Linked DNA regions of Homo sapiens: region 1 is linked to region 2. Evidence: fine-mapped expression QTL. A gene starts in region 2. The other region holds a variant in brackets. All regions are shown on one strand. Distances are between the middles of the regions.

Region 1 (8,331 bases), 240 kb after region 2:
GGTGTGATAATAGCTCACTGCAGCCTTGACCTCCCAGGCTCAAGTGATCCTCCTGCTTTAGCCATCCATGTAGGTGGGACAACAGGCATGTACCATGATGCTTGGCTAATTTTTTAATATTCTGTAGAGACAGGGTCTCACTTTGTTGCCCAGGCTTGAGCTGATTCTGGAAGGATGGCTAGTGGTTGGATAGAACCCTCCAATAAAGAGACTGGCATGATCCACAGCTTGGGGCATGAAAAGGCCTGCTCTGTGTGGGTGACTGAAAATAGTCAAGGGGGGCTGGGAATGGTGGCTCACGCCTGTAATCCAGCACTTTGGGAGGCCAAGGTGGGTGGATCACCTGAGGTCAGGAGTTAGAGACCAGCCTGGCCAACATGGTGAAATCCCATCTCTACTAAAAATATAAAAAATTAGCTGAGTGTGGTGGTGCACACCTGTAATCCCAGCTACTCGGGAGGCTGAGGCAGGAAAATTGCTTGAAGCCGGGAGGTGGAGGCTGCAGTGAGCCAAGATTGCGCCACTGTACTCCAGCCTGGGCAACAGAAAAATGGACACTCTGTCTCAAAAAAAAAAAAAAGAATTTTTGCAGAGGCTGGGCTTAGTGACTCACGCCTATAATCCTAGCACTTTGGGAGGCCATGGCAGGCAGATCACTTGAGGCTAGGCGTTTGAGACCAGCCTGGACAACATGGTGAAACTCCATCTCTACTAAAAATACAAAAATTAGGCCTGGCGTGGTGGCTCATGCCTCTAATTCCAGCACTTTGGAAGGCTAAGGCGGGTGGATCACCTGAGGTCAGGAATTCAAGACCAGCCTCGCCAACATGGTGAAACCCTGTCTTTACTAAAAATATAAAAATTAGCCAGGCGTGGTGGCCTGTAATCTCAGCTACTCCGGAGGCTGAGGCAGGAGAATTGCTTGTACCTGGGAGGTGGAGGTTGCAGTGAGTCGAGATCATGCCATTGCACTCCAGCCTGGGCGACAAGAGTAAAACTCTGTCTCAAAAAAAAAAAAAAAAAAAAAAAAAGGAAAGAAAGAAAGAAAGAAAAATTAGCCAGGTGTAATCCCATCTACTTGGGAGGCGCTGAGGCACAAGAATTGATTGAACCTGGGAGGCGGAGTTTCAGTGAGCCAAGATCATGCCACCGCACTCCAGCCTGGGTGACAGAGCAAGACTGTCTCCAAACAAAAAAAAAAAAAAGAATTTCTGCAGACAGAATAGAAAATGAACTTGAACTAAGGAACTAAAGGAAGAAGAGATTAGAGGGAGGAACCCTAGAACCCTAGAGAGCCAGCTATTTTAAGAGTCTAGGTCAGGCCAGGCACAGTGGCTTATGCCTTTGGGAGTCCAAAGCAGGAGGATCACTTGGGCCCAGGGGATTGAGACCAGCCTGGACAGCATAGTGAGACCTTGTCTCTACAAAAACTTTCAAAGTAGCTGAGCATGATGGTGCATTCCTGTAGTCCCAGCTCCTTGGGAAGCTGAGGTGGGAGGATCACTTGAGCTCCAGAGGTCGAGGCTACGGTGAGCTGTAATCGCACCACCGCACTTCATCCTAGGTGACAGAAGGAGATCCTATCTCAAAAAAGGAAAAGAAAAAAAAAAGAAAAAGAAAAAAAGGAGGAGGGGATGCATTTTGGTGGTTGAACCAATGTATTATAGTATGTGTCTCATTCTCTTAAGCTCCGTCAGCAGCAGCTGCAGTAAAAACAACTTTATTTGATCTATGACCCTGGGTGGTGGAAGTTAAGGAGGAGGGAAGCAATTAGTTTCCTGGAGTCCCAACCTTAGTCCCAAGAGGTCTCTTTTACATACATGGAGAGCCAGTAGCTGAATGGGACAAAAAAGAACCCAGGAAGTAAGTGAAAGGTCTTTAGACAAAATGGGTATGGGGTTTCTTTTTGGGGTGAAGAAAATGTTCTGGAATTATTGGTGACAGTTGCACAAAACTGTAAATGTACTGAAAGATACTGAGTTGTACACTTCAAAATGGTTAAAATAGTGAATGTTATGTGAATTCTACCCGCCCCCCCAAAATAAAAAGAAGACATTCAAAATCTCAAAGGATTCATCACTGGCAGACTTGCAGTATAAGAAATGTTTTTTGTTTCTTTTTTCAGGGGGAGGGTCTTGCTCTGTCTCTGAGGCTGGAGTGCAGTGGCCCAATCTCAGCTCACTGCAACCTCTGCCTCCCAGGCTGAAGCCATCCTCCTGCCTCAGCCTCCTGAGTAGCTGGGACTACAGGCACGTACCACCACACCCAGCTTATTGTTGTACTTTTTGTAGAGACAGGGTTTTACCATGTTGCCCAGGCTGGTCTGAAACTCTTGAGCTCAGTTGATCCACTCACCTTGGCCTCCCAAAGTGCTGGGATTACAGGCATGAGCCACTGCACCTGGCCTAAGAAATGTTAATAAAAGTCTGTAGACAGAGGAAAATGACTTCCATTGAAAATCTGGATGTACATAAAGAAATGAAGACCATAGGAAATAGTAAATAGGTAAATATACATTTTTGTTTATTTGTGTGTGTGTGTGTGTGTTTTCTTTTGAGATGGAGTCTCACTCTGTAGCTCAGGCTGGAGTGCAGTGGCACAGTATCGGCTCACTGCAACCTCCGTCTCCTGGGTTCAAGCAATTCTGCCTCAGCCTCCCGAGTAGCTGGGATTACAGGCGCCCACCATTACGTCTGGCTAATTTTTAAAATATTTTTAGTAGAGACAAGGTTTCACCATGTTGGCCAGGATGGTCTCAAACTCCTGACCTCAGGTGATCCGCCCGCCTCGGCCTCCCAAAGTGCTGGGATTACAGGCATCAGCCACCGCGCCTGGCTTAAGAAATGTTAATAAAAGTCTGTAGACAGAGGAAAATGACTTCCATTGAAAATCTGGATGTACATAAAGAAATGAAGACCATAGGAAATAGTAAATAGGTAAATATACATTTTTGTTTATGTGTGTGTGTGTGTGTGTGTGTGTGTGTGTGTGTTTTCTTTTGAGATGGAGTCTCACTCTGTAGCTCAGGCTGGAGTGCAGTGGCACAGTATCGGCTCACTGCAACCTCCGTCTCCTGGGTTCAAGCAATTCTGCCTCAGCCTCCCGAGTAGCTGGGATTACAGGCGCCCACCATTACGTCTGGCTAATTTTTAAAATATTTTTAGTAGAGACAAGGTTTCACCATGTTGGCCAGGATGGTCTCAAACTCCTGACCTCAGGTGATCCGCCTGCCTCGGCCTCCCAAAGTGCTGGGATTATAGGCATGAGCCACCGTGCCCGGCCCCTTAAATATACATTTTTAAAAGAGATAATTGACTATTGACTATTTAAGGCAAAAATAATGTAGTTTATAACATATGTAAGTGTAAAATGTAACAATAGCACAAAGGCTGGGAGGGAGAAAATGGAAGTATACTATGGTTTCTTACACTGTAAATAGCACCTGAAGGTAGTCTGTAATAAATTAGAGATGATTACTATAAACCCTAAAGCAACACTAAAATAACAAAGCAGGTGTGGCACAGTGGCTTATATCTGTAATCTCAGCACTTTTGAGGCTGAGGCAGGAGGATCACTTGAAGCCAGGAGTTTGAGATTAGCCTGAGCAACATAGCGAGATGCCATCTCTACAAAAAATAAAAAATGTTATTCAGGGGCTGGGTGCAGTGGCTCACATCTGTAATCTCAGGACTTTGAGAAGCTGAGGCAGAAGGATTATGTGAGCCCAGAAGTTCAAGACCAGCCTGGGCAACATACGGAGCCTCCATCTCTATAAAAAATAAAAAATTAGCCAGGTGTGATGGCACAAACCTGTGGTCTCAGCTACTTGAAGGTGGGAGGATCACTTGGATGTGGGAGGTGGAGACTGCAGTGAGCCATGATTGCACCACTGCACTCCAGCCTGGGTGATAGAGCAAGACCATGTCTAAAAAAAAAAAAAAAAAGCCAGATGTAGCGGCACATACCTGTAGTCCCAGCTACTTGGGAGGCCAAGGTGGGAAGATTGCTTGAGCCCAGGAGTTTGAGACTGCAGTGAGTCATAATTGCAAAATGCACTCCACACTGGGTGACAGAGCAAGACCCTGTTACAGAAAGGGAAAAACAAAACAAAACAAAACAAAAACAGAAGATAGAATTATAAAAAAATACTGAGTTAAACCCAAAGAAGAGCTGGGTGCAGTGGTTCATGCCTACAATCCCAGCACTTTGGGAGGCCGAGGTGGGCAGATCATAAGGTCAGAAGATCAAGACCATCCTGGCTAACACAGTGAAACCCCGTCTCTACTAAAAATATAAAAAATTAGCTGGGTGTGGTGGTGGGCACCTGTAGTCCCAGCTACTCGGGAGGCTGAGGCAGGAGAATGGTGTGAACCCAGGAGGCAGAGGTTGCAGTGAGCCAAGATCATGCCACTGCACTCCAGCCTGGGCGACAGAGCAAGACTCTGTCTCAGAAAAAAAAAAAAAAAAAAAAAAACCCAAAGAAGAAAGAGAGGAAAGGAGAACAAGGAACAGATGAGACAAATAGAAAACAAGTAGCAAAATGTAATATTTAAACCTGACAATGTCAATAATGATATTAAATATAAATGGTCTAAACAACAAAATTAAAAGGCAAAGATTGTCAGATTGGATAAAAGAAAAAAGTCCAGCTATGTGCTTTCTACAAGAAACCCACTTTAAAAGAAACAAATAAATTATAAGTAAAAGGATTTTTAAAACTATACCATGCTAACACTAACCTAGAGAAAGCTGGAGTGGCTATGTTAATATCACAAAAGCAGACTTCAGGGCTGGAAATGGTGGCTCACGCCTGTAATCCCAGCACTTTGGGAGGCCGAGGCAGGAGGAATGTGTGAGCTAAGTTTGAGACCATCTTGGGCAACATAGTGAGACACTGTCACTATAAAAACAGATTTTTTTTTTTTTAAGAAAGAAAAGTAGGCCGGCAGTGGTGGCTCACGC[C/T]TGTAATTCCAGCACTTTGGGAGGCCAAGGTGGGCAGGTCACGAGGTCAGGAGCTCGAGATCAGCCTGACCAACATGGTGAAACTCCATCTCTACTAAAAATATAAAAATTAGCTGGGTGTGGTGGCGCGCACCTGTAGTCCCAGCTACTCAGAAGGCTGAGGCAGGAGAATCGCTTGAACCCGGGAGGTGGAGGTTGCAGTGAGCCAAGATCACGTCACTGCACTCCAGGCTGGTTGACAGAGCGAGACTCCATCTCAAAAAAAAAAAGAAAAAAAGAAAAGTAGACTTCAGAGGAAAGAATATTATAGGGATAAATAATGTCATTTGACAGTGAAAAAGGGGCCAATTTATTAAGATGACCTAACAATTCTAAGCATTTATACATATGATAACAGAGCTTCAAAACACAAGAAGCAGGCTGGGCACTGTGGCTCATGTCTAATCCCAGTACTTTGGGAGGCTGAGACAGGTAGATCACTTGAGGTCAGGAGTTTGACACCAGCCTGCCCAACATGGCAAAACCCTATCTCTACTAAAAATACAAAAATTAGCCAGGTGTAGTGGTGCACACCTGTAGTCCCATCTACTTGGGAAGCTGAGGCATGAGAATTGCTTAAAACCGGGAGGCAGAGGTTGCAGTGAGCTGATATCATGCCACTGCACTCCAGCCTGGGTGACAGAGCAAGACTCTGTTTCAAAAAAAAAAAAAAAAAAAAAAAATCCAAAACAATGTACCAATAAATTTAAAAGGATTCAAGTCATACAAAGTATGTTCCTTGAGCACAGTGGAATTAAATTAGAAACTAATTACTGATATCTGGATGATAGCCTAGTATTTGGAAACTAAATAACACACATTTAAGTAATTTTCATTTCAAAGAGTAAAAAGAAAATTCAAAAAGTACTTTGAGCTGAATGAAAATAAAAACAGAACATGTCAAAATTTGTAAGATGTTGCTAAAGCTGTGCTTAGAAGGAAATTTAGAGCACATGAACATACAGATTCAAGAAATGGAGTGAACCCTAAGTAGAATAAATTCAAAGAAATCTATTGCAAGACACATCATAAGCAAACTTCCTAAAATAAATACAAAGAAAAAAGTCTTGGAAGCAAATAGAAACAACATAGTACCTATAAAGGAACAATTATTCCATTGACAGTAGATTTCTTATAAGAAGCCATAGAGACCAGCAGGGAATGGCACATTTTCCAAGTACTCAAACAAACAAACAAACAAACAAACAGACAAACGTCAACTTTAAATCCCATACCCAGCAAAAATATCCTTCAGGAATGAAGGTGAAATCAAGAGCTTCTCAGATAAGGGAAACTAAGATAATTTGCTTCCACCAGACCTACTCTTAAAAAAAAAAGAAAGAAACAAAGCTTAAAACATTGTGAAGAAAATTTGGGAGGCTGAGATAGGCAGATCACTTGAGGTCAGGAGTTCAAGACCAGCATGGCCAACATGGCGAAACACCATCTCTACTGAAAATACAAAAATTAGCCAGGCATGGTACCGCACGCCTGTAGTCTTAGCTACTCGAGAGGCTGAGGCAGGAGAATCACTTGAACCTGGGAGGCAGAGGTTGCAGTGAACCAAGATCACATCACTGCACTCCAACACTGGGCAACAGAGTGAGACTCCATCTCAAAAAAAAAAAAAACCAAAAAACCAAACAAAACAAAAATTATGAAGAAAGAAGAGGAAGTATAAAAATATAAATACATGACAATAGGTCAATCTTCTCATCTTGAGTTTTCTAAATTATATTGGATGGCTGAAGTAAAAATTATATTATCTGATATGGTTCTCAATATATAGATAGGAAATATTTAAGATAATTATAGTATACAAGGGGGAGGGAATGTTAAGGGACCTAAATGGAGGTAAGATTTCTATACTTTACTCAAACTGATAAAATGTTGACACCAGTAATTGTGATAGGTTTCATATGTATAATGCAATATCTAGACCAACCACTAAAAACATTCATAATAAATAAAAATTTATAACAGATAAATCAAAAAGGAATTTAAAGAAATGTTCAAGTAATCCACAGGAAGGGGAAAAAGGTCAAAGAGTAATGAAAATGAGAGCTGAAACAAACAAAAAGAAACATAAAATGGCAGACTTAGCCCTAATATATCAAAAATTACATTAAATGTAAATGATCTAGGCATACCAATTAAAAGACTGGTAGAAAAATAAAAAACAACATGTATATGTACATGTACATGTAAATATAATGACATAGGTAAGTTGAATGTAAAAGGATAGGCCAGGTGCGGTGGCTCACATATGTAATCCCAGCACTTTGGGAGGCTGAGGTGGGTGGATCATCTGAAGCCAGGAGTTTGAGACCAGCCTGGCCAACGTGGAGAAACCCCACCTCTACTAAAAATACAAAAAATTAGCCAGGCGTGGTGGCACCTGCCTGTAATCCCAGCTACTCGGGAGACTGAGGCAGGAGAATCGCTTGAACCCAGGAGGCGGAGGCTGCAGTGAGCCGAGATCACGCCATTGCACTCCAGCCTAGGCAACAAGAGTGAAAGACCATCTCAAAAAAATAAAAAATAAAAAATAAAAGATAAATCATACACATATTACTCAAAAGAAATCAGGACTGGCCATGCTAATACCAGATAAAATGAATTAAGAGCAATGAAAATTACTGCAGATTGAGAGGAACATTGTTTAATTAATAAAGGGTTAACCCACCAAGAGGGCACAGCCATTTTTTAAAATATAGTTTTGCTCTGTCACCCAGGCTGGAATGCAGTGGTCAGATCATGGCTCTCTGCAGCCTTAACCTCCCAGGCTCAAAAGATCCTCTGACCTCAGCCTCCTAAGTAGCTGGGACTACAGATGCACACCACCACACCTGACTAATTTTTGTATTTTTTTTGTAAAGATACTTTCACCATGTTGCCCAGGCTGGTCTTGAACTCCTGGCATCAAGTGATCCACCTGCCTCAATCTTCCAAAGTGCTGGGATTAGAGGCATGAGCCACCGTGCCCAGCCTAAGACACAGCAATCCTAAATGTGTACATATCAAACAACAGAGGCCAGGTGCAGTGGCTCATGCCTGTAATCCCAGCACTTTGGGAGGAGGTAGAGGCAGGCAGGTCACTTGGGGCCAGGGGTTCAAGATCAGCCTAGCCAACATGGTGAAACCCCATCTCTACTAAAAAATACAAAAATCTGCCAGGTGTGGTGGCATGTGCCTGTTATCCCAGCTACTCAGGAGGCCGAGTCATGAGAATCAGTTGAACCCAGGAGGCAAAGGCTGTAGTGAGCCAAGATAGCACCACTGCACCCCAGCTTGGGCAACAGAGCAACAATGTGTCTCAAAAAAACAAAA
Region 2 (8,331 bases):
CTTTGGGAGGCCGAGGCGGGCAGATCACGAGGTCAGGAGATTGAGACCATCCTGGCTAACACAGTGAAACCCTGTCTCTACTAAAAAATACAAAAAATTAGCTGGGTGTGGGACGCCTGTAGTCCCAGCTTCTTGGGAGGCTGAGGCAGGAGAATGGCATGAACCCGGGAGGCGGAGCTTGCAGTGAGCCAAGATTGCACCACTGCACTCCAGCCTGGGTGACAAGAGTGAGACTCCATCTCAAAAAACAAACAAACAAACAAAAACTATAACAACTAAATATAAGAAATAGCCAGGTACGGTGGCGCACGAATTTGAGGTTGCAGTGAGCTATGATTGTGCCACTGCATCCAGAGCCTGGGCAACAGAGCAAGCCCCTGTTTCTCGGGGGAGAGGAAAGGAAATGTATACAGAGGCCGGGCGCAATGGCTCATGCCTATAATTCCAGCACTTTGGGAGGCCAAGGCGGTGGCTCACCTGTCAGGAGTTCGAGACCACCCTGGCCAACATGGCAAAACCTTATCCCTACTAACAATACAAAAAAAAAATTAGCCAGGTATGGTGGCACACACCTGTAATCCCAGCTACTTGGGAGGCTGAGGCATGAGAATCACTTGAAACCAGGAGGTGGAGGTTGCAGTGAGCTAAGATGCACCACTGCACTCCAGCCTGGGCCACAGAGCAAGACTCCTGTCTCCCAAACAAAACACAAAAAGGAACGTATACTGAATAAACATGCTTGAAGAGAGCAGCTAAAGGGCCCTAATACAATCTCCTTCTGCTTCTCTTCCTCTCAACCTTTTCCACTGTGCTCTCTGGGAGCCTATTTCCACATAACACTTCCCACCCATTCCACCTTTCTTTTTTTTTTTTTTTTTTTTTTTAGGGGGGTACAGAATTTCACTCTTGTTGCCCAGGCTGGAGTGTAATGGCATGATCTCGGCTCACCACAACCTCCACCTCCCGGGTTCAAGCGAATCTCCTGCTTCAGCCTTCCTGAGTAGCTGGGATTACAGGCATACACCACCACGTCTGGCTAATTTTGTATTTTTAGTAGAGACAGGGTTTCTCCATGTTGGTCAGGCTTGTCTCGAACTCCCGACCTCAGATGATCCGCCCACCTCGGCCTCCCAAAGTGCTGGGATTACAGGCATGAGCCACGGCGCTCAGCCTTTCTCTTTTTTTTTTTAGATGGAGTCACCCTCTGTTGCCCATGCTGGAGTGCAGTGGCACAATCTCAGCTCACTGCAACCTCCGCCTCCTGGGATTCTCATGCCTCAGGCTCCCAAGTAGCTGAGATTGCAGGCGCCTGCCACCACGCCTGGCTAATTTTTGTATTTTTAGTAGAGACAGGGTTTCACCATGTTGGCCACGCTGGTCTCAAACTCCTGACCTCAGGTGATCCACCTTCCTTGGCCTCCCAAAGTGTTGGGATTACAGGAATGAGCCACTACGCCCGGCCTGCTTTTTTTAAAAAATTTTTTAAGGACAGGGTCTCACTCTGTTGCCCAGGCTGGAGGGCAGTGGCACAAACATGGCTCACTGCAGCCTTGACCTACTGGGCCCAAGTGATCCTCCCACCTCAGGCTCCTGAATAGCTGGGATCAGAGGCACACGTGCCACCATGCCTGGCTAATTTTTGAATTTTTTTTGTAGAGTTGGGGTCTCTTGCTATGTTGCCATGGCTGGTCTTGAACTTCTGGGCTCAAGTGATCTTCCCACTTTGGACTCCCAAAGTGCTGGGAATGTTCATGTCTGATTAACCCCAGTTTTGGGAATGCCTCTAAGATTTCTATTTTATCTACTGTTCTTTGTGTAAGAGCATGTACTTACCATAATTTCTCCTTAGATCAAAACAATCTTGATCATAAAGCCTGGCTTACTGAGTATTCTTGCCTTTCCCTGCAGGGTAGACTTCAATTGTCCTAGAGGTTCCTTCCCTGTGGTAAGTCCTGGGGTCAGGACTTACTCCAGGGGATGATGTCCTGGGGATCCACCATCGTGTCTCACCACTACCCAAGACACAGACATGGCTTCTGTTCATAAATTCCTATTAAATATTTCTAAGAAACTGGATTTGTCAGCCTCCTTCCTCAACCTCTTAGCTTCCTTGGACTTTGGGGGTAAGTGTGCATAGACCTGTGCACTGCGGAACAGCTCCCCAATGGCTTTCCATATTCTTTCAATCTAATGGGCCACTCTGGACAGCTGAACATGTGGAGGTTCCTGGAGGACGGCATGCCTAGGGAAGGCAAGCAAGCTTCGGACTCACCTCCCTCCCTGCCCACAAAATGCAATCTCTAAGAATATACAGGCCAGTCAAGGTAGGTCATACCTATAATCCCAGCACTTTGGGAGGCACCTGAGATGGGAAGATCACTTGAGCTCAGTTTGAGACTGGGTAACACAGTGAGACCTCATTTCTAGAAAAAAACAAAACCAAAGAAAAATAAGAATATACAAATCACATGCTAAGCAGGGAGAGGAGAGAGGAGAGACAGGCATTTCTCACAGATAATTCACATATATAATCACCCTATGCCCAGTTAAGACCATGTTTCGTCCAGTTCCTGTTATTTATGATCAAGACAGGGATGGCACAGAAAATGAAGGATAGCCTTCCCATCTCTGCAAGGGTCTTAACGTTTTTTCCCTGTACTACTTCTCTATAGAAAATGCTAGAAAGTCAGATGATGCCATAACCACTCATACTTGGCAAAATGCCAAAAATGGGAAAAGGAAAGAAAAAAAATTACAAGAGCCATATTTTGAAATCAATGTCTGCAAAAGTAATGAAAGCCACACAAAGGCATCTATAATGTGGCCCTTTCCCAGTCTTATAACCACTTAAAAATGTATTCCTTCTTCCTCTCCGTCTCTTCACAACACCTATTGATCCTTACTTCATTGATGTAAAATGGGGAAAATATCAGCGACCTCATACCTTGGGAAGATTAAAGGAAAGTTATTTAACAAAAACTTATACAGCACTTATGCTGTGCCAGGCCTATTCTATTTTACACTTTTTTTTTTTTTTGAGTTGGAGTCTCACTCTGTCACCCAGGCTGGAGTGCAGTGGTGCGATCTCGGCTCACTGCAACCTGCCGGGTTCAAGTGATTCTCCGACCTCAGCCTCCCAAGTAACTGAGATTACAGGCGCCCGCCACCAGGCCCAGCTATTTTTTTTTTTTTTTTTTTTTTTTTTTTTTTTTGTATTTTTAGTAGTGACAGGGTTTCACCATGTTGGCCAGGCTGGTCTCGAACTCCTGACCTCAGGTGACCCACCTGCCTCGCCTCCCAAAGTGCTGGGAGGTGTGAGCCACCAAGCCCGGCCCTATTTTACCAATAATAACACTTCGAATCCTCCGAAGAGCCCTATGAGGTAGGTACCATTATCATTATTTTACAGATGAGGAACTGAGGCCCAGGAGAGATAACTAAACCTGCTGAGGGTCACTAACTAGGACCTGGTAGAACCAGGATTTAAATCTGAGTAGGCTGTCTGAACCCCATCCACTTGAGCACCCTCTGAGATAATTTAGCCCCTTCACCGGTACGAGATCTATGGCGGCCTCCAGAAATGGTTGCTAACTTACTATTATCGTTATTTCTGTCGTACAATTCATTTCTACCTTTCCAATAAACTTTCCCCAACCAGTGAACCTCACTTACTGCCCATAAAGTTCACCTGTGCCTCACCACCCTGCCATCGCCCGAGTTTTCTGCTCTGATCTAATCCTCACACGCCTGTGCAGCACCAGCTTCCAACACCAGGTGCACCGCCAGGGTATTTACTGATCCAGTGAGTGAAGGTGGGCCCGGCCGGGCTGGTTCCCATCCTCTGATCAACGCCTAGGGGAACCAGTGAACTCCAATGCTGACCATAAGAGTTTCAGAAAGTAGGGCTGGAAAGCCCAGCCCTCCGCTCAGAGACCTGTGAAGATCGAGGAGGATGGCGCATATGCTGCCGCAGGATGGAAACCTCGATCAGAGAAGGCTGGGGCAGGTGACTGGGCTTAATTGCAAATTTTAACATTTACTTCAGCAACCAGCTCATTAAAAACAAACTACTCTGAGGCCTCTTTTTTTTCTACCAAACCGCGAGAGGAAGCAAAAGAGAGTGCAGCGGTTCTCCCCGGGGCCGTTAAGTGCTTCCAGCTATCTGACCTCCACGCTGCCTGCTGCAGCCTCAATCTTTCCCCAGGTTCTGAGTTCTTTCAGCAGTAGGTCCAGGAAAACAGCCGCCCCGCCCCCTCCACCTCCCGAGACTAGGAGCCCGCCAGGGTTAAGTAGGAGGGATACCCTAGGGGCCCCGCAGGGTTTTTAGGGTTGGGGTGGATTGGAAATTGTTCATTGCCTTTCAGTTCCGGGACATAAAGCGCGCTGGAAGGACACTGAGTCACCAACCACCGCCATGGGCCGGAAGCCACCGCCCTCGCGTCAACTGCAATCTAGAGCGCGGCGCATCCCGTGAGCCCGCGGGGAACTACGACTCCCGGCATGCTCCGCGGCCACCGGAATTAACCCTTCAGGGCTGGGGGCCGCGCTATGCCCCGCCCCCTCCCCAGCCCCAGACACGGACCCCGCAGGGTGAGTTTTTGGGGGCTGAGGAGGGCCATTTTCTTTAAGATTTAGTGGGGGTGCGTGAGTGTGTGTGTGTGTGTGTGTGTCGTGTGTGTGTGATGTATTTTGTAAAAATGGGACAATTTGCAGTCATGAGATTCAGACGCTGTTTTGCGAATGGGAGACCCAGCATCAACCCCGGGGCCTAAGTGGAATCACTGCTATCTTCCTCAGAATGCTACCTAAATCCTTTCCTAATTTACCCCAGAACAAAAGTAGCCTGCAATCCCTCCCCACTCCCAAACGCCCCCCAACTTGGACTCTCTCCCAGCGCCCCTGGCAAGGTTTGTGACCTGGCCCCTGAGTCAGGATTTTTATTATACCCCTGGTTGTGGGGTGAATACTCATGGAGCCATAGGAGCGCCCACATCCTCTTGGATTAGGGAATTTAAGCCGTCTCCCAGAGCCTGCCCTTCTCCTCAGGTGCCACCAAAGGGTCCCCACAGGTTCAGCAAGCACCCTACCTTTTGTTTGTCTTGAATGACCGTGGGCTTGTGGAAGGTTTCTTCCATGGAAGAATGGGTAGCAGATGTTAAACCTGATCTTTGCCCCCACTCCTGCCCCTAAAACAACACTGGGCACAGGAGACAATGAGGGATGTCATACTCCTGTTTTTATGACTATTCTTCCTTTATACTGTGAATAGTTCCAGTTCTTGGCTGGGTGGGGGCTCAGGAACTACAAGTATTAGGGATCATTAGACTCTAAGGTTAACTACCCCTGCTCTTTACAAAGCCATGGTCAGAAGGGAGTGGAGGGGCTGGGCAGATGGGCTTCTTGTTTTTGTCATTGCTCCCAGACCACACTTTAACTTGTTCCAGTTCACACAAGCCTCCCTGGCTGCTACCCCTCACCCCACCCTTCAAGAAGACTAAAGCTGCTGGATCACCTGCTTTGCCTCACCACCCCCATCTCAGTGCCACTGGCAAGCATCCTATCCTCACCCTGGAGGTTAACTACCTCATTCTGGGCAGTCTCTGGCTTCCTCCCCTACCCCTAAAGGAAACATTGTTCTTTTCTGGTCAGCCTTTGGGGATAAGGGGACAGAGGGAAGAAGACCTTGGGGCAGGAGTCCTGAACCATAGGAGGCCAGGGGAGTGAGGGCAGGCGGTTATATCTCTCCTCTACCTCATCTTTGCCACAGCCAACTGGCTCCCTGCCCCTGCCCCCGCCCCTTGACATCCCAGACTCCCTGGCTATTTAAACAGAGATGGGTGCCCCCATCCGCACACTGTCCTTTGGCCACCGGACATCATGCCTCCCAAGAAGGATGTTCCCGTGAAGAAACCAGCAGGGCCCTCCATCTCCAAACCTGCTGCTAAGCCAGCAGCAGCAGGGGCTCCTCCAGCCAAGACCAAAGCTGAGCCAGCTGTCCCCCAGGCCCCTCAGAAAACCCAGGAGCCTCCAGTCGATCTCTCCAAAGTGGTGGTGAGTCTCTGGAAAGTGAAGATAGAATTGGAGGGGGTGGTTTGAGGGTGGGATACAGCCTAGGGGATTAGGGGGTATCTAGAAGGTAGGGAATCAGTGAGCCCTGGAATGAGATTGGGGCTTTCCCTTAGTCCCCCATTTGGAAGCATCCAGTCTTATGACTCTGCTGTTGTCTTTGCTGTTCTCTCCCTCTAACCTATAATCATGTGTGTACAGCACATACACACTCACTTACCCCCTGCTGGAGGCAGGGACTCTTAGATGGGGAACATCTGGGTTCTGAGAACAGTTTCAAGGTGAAGGGAAGAGAGCTGTTGCCTGCCCCTGGCTGGTGGTTCAATTCAAAAGGCCTGCAGCTCTGAACTCCAGGAGGGGAGGCTGAAGAGGACAGACTTGTTAGACAATCACAGCTGGGGGCCAGGGGTAAATTTAGCCTTTGTTCAGCCCCCAGTTATGTGTGGGATGCAGGGCTCAGGGCAATGGAGGGAGGGAAACAGGTGGCATGGGATTAACCCTGTTCCCAGGAAACCCTCCCCACTGTAATTCCTCTTCTTGGGATTCTCCCAAGGCCCAGAGCTGGGAATGGGACTGAGGTGGCTGGGCTTCCAGCCTGGTCCCTTTGGGCCCCTCCTCAGAAGTGGCTGCCAGTTGGTTGGGAGGAGTGCGGGAGAGGGATTGAATAAACTCTCATCTCTCCCCACCTGCTTTTTTCTTCCACAGATCGAGTTTAACAAGGACCAGCTGGAGGGTGAGGAGAAGCTCATCTAAGGCCACTGTCCCATCCCCAATCCCCTGGTCAGATTCTCTTTCTATTCCCCTAACCCCAGTCCTGACCTTGAAACCTCCCATACTAGTCCTCTTTTCCTCCCTTGTTCTGTTCACATAGTTTCTGAAATTCCCTTCTGTCTGGGGGTGATGGGAACCCTAGTCAGTGTCTACACTGACCCTTCCTTATACTTTAGAGTTCAAGGAGGCCTTCGAGCTGTTTGACCGAGTGGGGGATGGCAAGATCCTGTACAGCCAGTGTGGGGACGTGATGAGGGCCCTGGGCCAGAACCCCACCAACGCCGAGGTGCTCAAGGTCCTGGGGAACCCCAAGAGTGATGGTGAGGGGACCCTTGGGAACAATTTGGGTTTTTAGTTTTCAAAAGTTGGATGTTGGTAACAAAAAGAATGAGGTGGATCTCAGGACTTCAAAAACTGTCAAACACAGAAGCAGGAAAATATCCTAAATGCTGAATAGGATGAAAGCATTGTGGTAGGGTTGGGAGCTGGGTCCTATGTAATACTACAATGACCTCTCCTTTACCTCTCTCCAACCTCCAGAGCTGAAGTCGCGGCGTGTGGACTTTGAGACTTTCCTGCCCATGCTCCAGGCAGTGGCCAAGAACCGAGGCCAAGGCACATATGAGGACTACTTGGAGGGGTTTCGTGTGTTTGACAAGGAGGGGAACGGCAAAGTCATGGGAGCAGAGCTCAGACATGTTCTCACCACCCTTGGTGAGGCAGGCAAGGGGGACCAGAACTCCTTTAGAGTGGAGAGGGGGATGGGGTGGGCCAGAAAGACTGGACAGATAAGCAGAGCTAGCAGGAGGCTTACTGTCCTGCAGGTTGTCGGCAGGAGACTGAGAAGGTCAGAGCTATGGGGGTAGAATCTGAAGGACTCGCTCTTCCAGAGGCTAAAGTGCCATCCGGAGGGCAGAGGAAAAGGGATGAGGCGGGAAACCTGAATTTTCATTTTGGAAGAGACGTGTGGGTTGTGTGTTCTGGTACAAGTCTCGTAACCTCCTGGGATTGTTTCCTTGTGGGTCAATACTTTCAGCAGTACTAGGGTGAAATGGAAAGCAAGAGGCATCCATGACCAGGGGAGGATTCCCTTGAGGACTGAGGCTATGGGAGAAGAAGAGGTACCACTCTAAAGAGCGTGGCCTGGCCAGGTATGGTGGCTCACGCCTGTAATCCCAGCATTTTGGGAGACCAAGGCGGGCGGATCACCTTAGCTCGGGAGTTCGAGACCGGCCTGGCCAACATGGTAAAACCCCATCTCTATTAGTAATATAAAAACTAGGCGGGCATGGTGGCACGCACCTATAATCCCAGCTACCCAGGAGGCTGAGGCAGGAGAATCGCTGGAACCCGGGAGTCTGAGGTTGCAGTGAGCCGAGAGATCATGCCACTGTACTCCAGCCTGGGGGACAGAGCAAGGTTCTGTCTCAAAAAAAAAAAAAAAGGCCAGACACGGTGGCTCAAGCCTGTAATCCCAGCACTTTGGGAAGCCGA

Evidence for each region. PIP is the estimated chance that this variant, and not a neighbour inherited with it, causes the effect.
Region 1: its variant is the best candidate, but not a certain one, in a credible set for the expression of MYL6B in whole blood (TOPMed, PIP 0.55).

Annotation. Positions count from the first base shown.
Region 1 is chr12:56,387,915-56,396,245 of GRCh38, forward strand. No RefSeq gene overlaps it. Among named protein-coding and RNA genes, the nearest start is that of APOF, 29 kb to the left of the region's middle. The variant C/T (reference allele first, on the strand shown) is at 4,963.
Region 2 is chr12:56,148,042-56,156,372 of GRCh38, forward strand. It overlaps MYL6B (myosin light chain 6B), which reads left to right and starts at 4,546. Exons shown (of 8, transcript NM_002475.5): 1 at 4,546-4,590; 2 at 5,832-6,051; 3 at 6,772-6,799; 4 at 7,014-7,157; 5 at 7,378-7,551. The coding sequence starts at 5,878. It overlaps LOC124902942, which reads left to right and starts at 3,786. Exons shown (of 3, transcript XM_047429954.1): 1 at 3,786-4,006; 2 at 4,365-4,590; 3 at 5,768-5,856. The coding sequence starts at 3,953. The coding sequence ends at 5,802. MYL6B-AS1 (MYL6B antisense RNA 1) reads right to left here. Exons shown (of 3, transcript NR_186043.1): 3 at 2,755-2,944. It overlaps LOC124902943 (a long non-coding RNA gene), which reads right to left and starts at 5,832. Exons shown (of 2, transcript XR_007063328.1): 1 at 5,088-5,832. RefSeq lists an enhancer at 3,620-3,699.